2 linked regions of the Homo sapiens genome follow. The protein of the gene in region 1 purifies or fractionates together with the protein of each later gene. This does not show direct contact. Each region holds a gene or a part of one and is shown in the gene's direction. Other genes may lie near its edges.

Region 1 (4,011 bases):
ATTGTTGGGTAGTGAAAGAGATTTTGTAACTTGTTCAGGCTTCTCTATGGCACAGCAGAATTCAACCCCTTGGACTATTGGACTGCAGTGCCAGCTTTTCTTCTACTATGCCTTTTACTGATTGAGTGTTTTAGTATTTTCTGAATATTAAACTACTAGGGATTCAAATGATAAAATTTATAATTTCAGAAACAATACTTGAGTATTATTGGAAGAGAACTAATTTGACTCAGTATGTATCTAATTTGGAAATTATTAATATGCAAACATTATTGAGCCTTTTGAAAGGTTTATATCTCCCGAATGCCCTTTCACTTCAGCTCTGATGATTGGATTCCTGTTTTACTTACTGCAGAATTAACTGTACAATATCATGCTTACATGTTCAGTGAGGATGAAGTAAATGGGCATTATCAAAGATTGTTGATGGGGTTGTAATTAGTATAATCCCTTTTGAGGTCACTTGGGTAGTACCTATCAAAATAAATGTGCATGTTATCCAGCAATCCCATATCTAGAAATTTATCTGACTGAAATATTCTGACTTGTGTGCAAAGACACACACAGGTACACAAACATATAATGGTAGGGAATTGGTTGGCTCGACTGGTACATTTGTAACTCTTCAGCCCTAGAGTAAAAGTAAGGGAAATCTATCTGTATGACATGATATGGCAAGATGCCCCTAGCATGTTACGTACAAAAAGGCAGATTGTATGTGTCCTGGATGTGTCACAAGAAGATGTGTATACTTATCCATTTAAGAACTAATTTTAGGTATACAGAAAAAGTCTGGAAGATTATACCTCAGTTATTTATGTTTGCCATGGGAGAGGAAATTTTTACTTTCTGTGCATTTATATTTAGGATTTTTGTCATCAGGAGTTATCACTTTTTGACTGAATAAAAGTTTTTAAAATATGCTCACATTAAAGTTTTTCAAATTTTACAATGAAAATGACAATGACAAATCAGTAGAAAAAGAAATGCATGTATCAAATGATGATGTGAACTATCAACACAATTAAATTTGTTATTGCTTTTCTGAGTATTATTTCTTTAATTGAGAAGATTCAAATTTTGGATGAAATCATGGAGGGAGTTAATTTAAAGATTACCTTTGCTTTTGTCTTGAGTCCTAGATGTCCTCCTAACCTAATTCTGAAATAGATCATTGTATTCAGCTTGTTAATAGATTTTTTTTTTTTTCTGAACTGCTGTTTTTCCAACTTTGTTTTAAGGAATAAACATCATCCTGACCTTCATCTCTGGGCTTGTTCCGGGAAGCGAAAAGACCAAGATCAAATAATAGCTGGGGTGGAGAAAAAAATAGCTCAAGACACAGTTAATCGAGAAGAAAAGAAATATGTACAGAACCATAAAGAACCACCTCGTTTGCCCCTAAAAATGGAAGGAACTTATATAACAAGTGAGCATAGCTATCAAAAGCCACAAAGTTTTGGTCAGGACTGTAAATCTCTCGCAGACCCTGGGAGCTCAGATGATGATGATGTTAGTAGTTTGGAAGAAGAACAAGAATTCCACATGAGAAGTAAAAACAGTTTACAGTACTCAGCAAAAGAACATGGAATGCCTGAAAAGGTAAAACTAGTTCATTTTTCTTTGCTTGGAAACTATGAGAGAAGAACAAAGGAAAATTTTATAAAATAAGGCATACTGAATTCCCAGATTTTAGTTGTATTTCCAAGTTCCCCAGTACCTTGTTAAAGTAAGGAGATTTTTTTGTTTTCTCTACAGGAAAACACTGGCCATTTGAACATTTGATTATCTCCTAATTCAGAATTGTAGTAATTCAATAAACTGTTACTCTAACAAAAGTTTCAATTGTATAAGTACATTTCGATGCTTCTAAAAAATGAACCACATTGTATTCAAAACGAAAATGTCAGTGTGTAAGAATGTGAAAGTACATATGGGTGTAATGATTTGTCTTCCTCTTTATGTGAGTTAGATAAAAGGTGGCACTCTAATTGTCTGTTTAAAAAATTTTAGCATGTTTGTCAATGCATCCCACTATTCAGTAAGGTGAATTCTGACAGATCTATGTGCATTGGACATCTATAAACTTATTTCCTGTTCACTGGGATTATCTTAGAAATGTACCTTTATTTTTTACTGATTTTCAATTAATGAGGCCACTTTAAAATTAGATGTTTTTTTTCTGCATTCCTTAACAAGTAATTACCATAAATAAGTACTTAAGTGAATTGGAACGTTTGTATTTCGTATCATAAAGTTTGTGGTAAGTTATTTTGTTTAATTAATATCCCATGTGCAAAATGAGTTATCTCTGGCAAATCCAAACGCACATTGTGTGTGTGTGTGTGTGTGTGTGTGTGTGTGTGAAGCAGTTTGTACTTTTGAAACTTGTAAAAGGTTTTTGCCTTTCCCTCCCTTCATTGATTTACTGTACTATAACAGTAAAGTCCAGTCTGTAGTTAATTAGATTTTATACTGGTCTTTGGAAACGCTCTTGATTTCTTTTCATCATTGCTTTCCACTCTTATGTCCACTTATATCACCAGCTGAGATTAATTGAGGAAGAGGCCAGTCTAAATTAATCAGGAATTCTAATTACACAATAGAATTAGTGACTTCATTTATTTAGCGCATTTTATTGAAGCCTTCTTGCCTGTGTAGCACCATGCGAGGCATAGTGGAGGGAGGTGGTGGGTGCATCAGCTCTTAAGAACCACCAGCTGGAATTTGGTTATGTAGCAGTACTTCTTTAAAGATACCCCTGGAGTCAGATTGGATCTCACTAACTGTTACCAGTGATGAGGTGTTTCCTGTATCCTTAACTCAATGACTGCATTTCATCCCGTTCTTTGTGTTTATTTTCCAATGGTCCTTTGGAGAAGAATCCAGCTGAAGGGAATACAGTATTTGTTTATAATGATAAAAAGGGCACCGAAGACCCAGGAGACTCACATCTTCAGTGGCAGCTCAATCTCCTTACACACATAGAAAATGTGCAGAACGAAGTTACCAGCAGGATGGACCTAATAGAAAAAGAAGTCGATGGTAATTTAAGAAAGAACTAAAATACAGTTACTATAGTGAATTTATTGTTACTATGAAGAAGTTACTTAAAATTCTTAAATTATGGGATGAAAACTGCAGATACTCTCCATACCGATGGGGCTTTATTACTCCCTTTGTATTGTATTTAACACATTTGGGATCTTTTACGCTTAAAACAATGTGACCGGGTATGACCTTAGGTTGTTTTTACTTTTTTAAGGTGGATATTTATTAAATACTGTCTATTTGCCAGGCTCCAGATAGATCACTTATGGAATAAATTGATTAGTTTCATTGAACTAAGCTTTCTTTGGAAGTCAACATAAGGAATTTAAGCATGTTTGAAATGTGAAAACATTTTGAATATTTTTTACTTTGGTTAGCACTTGTTAAATTAACAAAAACTTCTACAAAGTTAAGTAGGTAAACCTTAAGTGGTTTTCTTTTATATTTTAAAATTGTGTCATCACACAGGAGGCCTGAAAAGTGGGCAAGAAAGATACTATCACTACTTTATAGTTGAGAAACTAGAGTAACTTAGACTACCTGATTCTCAGTCCATGTTGTTCTTAATGCTTTCTGACTCCTGTTTCTTCCTAACATCATAGACGATATTCTGCACCCCAACTTTACTTTTTTTAATTTGGCATAAGCACGTGATACCTCTCCTCTACACTAAGTTAGAGCTCCTACTCCTTTTTTTCCCCCTTGAGAGAAGAAGAGAGAAAATGGAAACCCATTTTAGAAGCCTCTTCCATCTGGGTATAAGCTAACTGTAGAGTTAATGTGATGTTTTGAGTCCATGTTTGAAGAAAAGAAAATGCATCTTGATACTATTTCATATTATTAGGGTAGATTTCCAAAGGAAACATTAATAAAAACTATAGAATATAATCAATTGCATTCTGCCTACAATTTTAATACGCTTGCATGTCTTTTAAAAAGTAGTGTTAAAATAGTGGAACT
Region 2 (3,265 bases), on another chromosome or scaffold:
AATCAGAAACTGTTAAAGGAAAAAAACTTCTAAGGTAAGAGTACCACTTTAGTTTTAAATGCTAGTTTTATAAAAATTAAAATCTGAAAAGAGGGCACAAACACATACAGAAATAATCATGGCTTCTCGAACATGCGTCTCATGCTTCAATCATCTGTATTCAGCTTGCTCCAGACCAGGGGCTCCAGCCTGCAGATCAGCCAACAGATATGAGACGCAGGTGTGAGGAAGAAGCACAGGAAATTGTTCGGCATGCAAATTCCTCAACAGGACAGCCCTGCGTTGAAAATGAAAATCTGACAGACTTAATTTCCAGGCTTACAGCTATTTTGTTACAAATTAAGGTAAATCTTAGAGAAAATATTTTCTTAATTTGACACAAAGCAACCCACGCTAATTTGTTGCTAAGAAATTAATTCATTGATTATATCAGGTATTTTATGACTATATTTGAGCTATAATGCAATTAAATTTTGAAATTTTTTTCCCTTTAGTGTCTAGCAGAAGGAGGAGACCTGAATTCCTTTGAATTCAAATCACTTACAGACTCATTAAATGATATCAAGAGTACAATAGACGCTTCTAATATCAGGTAATTCGTTAGGTATACTCTAATCATTTTAATGTGAAGTTCATAGTAATTTTCAGTCCAGGTTTTAAGAATTATGCATATTTGTGAAGTACTCATATATTATTATCCGTTAAATATATTTGTAAGAGCTTTTCACTTATATCCAGCCTATGGACAGAATAGAAATTTCACATGGATTTTGTATATAAAGAAATCAGGACATATATTTAGGTTTGGGGTCAGCATGGAGGTTGAGCTTAGAGGTAGAGCTTCCCCAGTCAGTGAGAGACTCATCTTCTCCTTCCAGCCCCCCGTGGCTCCTTTGCTTCTTTAGAGCATATTTGTTCAACTACTACTGAAGTAGAATTATGGCTAATATATTAGAGGAGATTTATTCCTTCCCTAAGATTTATCATAGCTGTTTCCTAACTAAAATTCAGGTCTTCTTTTAAAAATTTTTTTCTTAATTTTTTGAAATAAAGTAGTTAACCATGTTTCTTCTTTCTTTAGTTGCTTTCAGAATAATGTAGAAATCCATGTTGCACATATTCAGAGTGGCCTGAGCCAGATGGGAAACTTACATGCCTTTGCAGCAAATAACACCAACAGAGACTGAGTAAAGATTTCATTATTCCAACTGCACGGGACATTGTTTTTGAGAAGTTCTTTTCCTTTATATAGGCTTCCAACACCAAATAACCTAACTGCTGGAAAACAAGGGAAATTTAAATCTCCAAATAAGGCATTTTAATAGACTGTACTGCTTCTTAAACCAGCATTGCTGACCAGCATTATATTTATTTTTCTTTTATTATTCAGATGCAGTAGCATTGCTTATGTTACATATGTTTATATTCACAAATATTTTTAAACTGAAATATCTGAACATAATATAATTTCGTGGAAGAATACATTGACCATTTTTTTTAATGTGCATGAATTCACCGCAACACATGCAGACAACTGCTGCAATGGAGAGTATGAAGAAACCTGGTCTTTTTATTCATGTCGGTGGCAGTGTGGAAATTCCATCCAGAAAATTACAACTCCACTTGATTTAGTTGATCACCATCTCAGTCTTCAAAAGATAACATCATGAGGTGTGGGAAGTCCTAGTTTTAAGGAAACCACTGAAATATAGATGGGAAATGTGGACTTTACAAGTATATGTTATATATACTTGCAATGTGACATGGTTCTGTAGATCATTTTATAATAATAAATATTTTAATTTATCATAACATATAAAAGAAACCTTTGTTGTTTGTTGAAAGAAAATGAAGGAACAGGGGGAAAAAAGGTGCAAAATGCTAAATTTCTAAAAATGGATTTGGCATGTCTTCCCATCAGTTCAGGTCAAAAGTGCATTGTTGTGAGATTTATTAAAAAAAAAATGATAACACACTATTTTCATATTTTTTTGTTTATTTGCACAACTTTTAAACCAGATTACTGGTTAAAATCCAACAGTACACAATTTATAAAGTAAAAAGATTTTATAAGGAAAACAAATATAATAACCAGTGCTGTGAAATGCAGAAGAAAGGCTTGTTTTGGTTGTTTTTCTTTTTTAGGAAAACGCTGCCTAAAATGTTAATCTTGTAAAAAGTATGTATTTGGAATTTTCTTCGTTTTAATAGAATATTATAAACTCAAAATATAAATTTTTTTCAAATTTGGAGTTTAAGATATAGCTGTAGAGGTGGTTTTAATTCCTTTAGATGTCTCATAAAATGAGACTTTTTATATGTTAATGTATAATAAAACTGAAACAAGATTATTTTCCATTTGAAATTTTTGTATAGTTTAAAAAGGCTTCCGTATTCTTTGTTGGTATTGTGCCACTGCAGAACTTTAGTGCAGAGTTTATATTTAGCTAAACTGTTATGTTAATTAAGAAATGCATAAATCTTCTATTCTTAATATTTGTAATTCTAAATAAATTGATCTATGAAAATTATTATTTTCTATATTTTCATTTAATTCAAGTCAATATGCATTCCTTCTGTTTAAAAAGTTTTGAAGAATTGTAATTTCCATTAAGTTATATTTTTAGGGGAAACAGTACAGATTACCGAGTCTCTCTGAAGTACCATACCATCCAATGGTATGGATTTTATTTATTACCATACCATACCATCCAGTGATACGGATTTTATTTATTACCATACCATCCAGTGGTATGGTATTAAGCAGGTAAGTTATTTGGCCTGGTATAGACCTAGTGAAAGGTTGATTTTAATATATTCTGCCTAGAATTGGGTATTTTGTGCATTTTTTCTTTTACATTTCTTTTTTTTTTTCTCTGTCGCCCAGGCTGGAGTGCAGTGATGCAATCTCAGCTCACCACAACCTCCAGGTCTTGGGTTCAAGGGATTCTTCCACCTCAGCCTCCTGAGTAGCTGGGATTACAGGCACGCGCCACCACGCCTGGCTAATTTTTGTATTTTTAGTAGAAACAGAGTTTCACCGTATTGGTCAGGCTGGTCTCGAACTCCCAACCTCAAGTGATCCACCTGCCTCAGCCTCCCAAAGTGCTGGGATTACAGGTGTGAGCCACCATACCCGGCCTGTCTTACTTACATTTCTTAAGGCTTATTTGTCACACTTAAATAGTACCTCATTTTACACATATTTAATTGAGCACTGTTTATCTTTCAGTGCCTTCATGTGTTGACAGCAGGGACTGTGCTG

Evidence for each region.
Region 2: the proteins of PHF20L1 (region 1) and LIN9 purify together in Homo sapiens (affinity purification with mass spectrometry; 2 studies listed by BioGRID and IntAct, with this or other methods). This does not show direct contact.

The regions. Positions count from the first base shown.
Region 1 is NC_000008.11:132,841,274-132,845,284, forward strand, and holds part of PHF20L1 (PHD finger protein 20-like protein 1), read left to right. Parts: intron 1-1,241; coding exon 1,242-1,602; intron 1,603-2,879; coding exon of another isoform or gene 2,880-2,882; coding exon 2,883-3,045; intron 3,046-4,011.
Region 2 is NC_000001.11:226,230,423-226,233,687, reverse strand, and holds the end of LIN9 (protein lin-9 homolog), read left to right. Parts: intron 1-164; coding exon 165-344; intron 345-494; coding exon 495-592; intron 593-1,081; coding exon 1,082-1,187; 3' UTR 1,188-2,531; downstream 2,532-3,265. UniProt on the Homo sapiens protein: Acts as a tumor suppressor. Inhibits DNA synthesis. Its ability to inhibit oncogenic transformation is mediated through its association with RB1. Plays a role in the expression of genes required for the G1/S transition.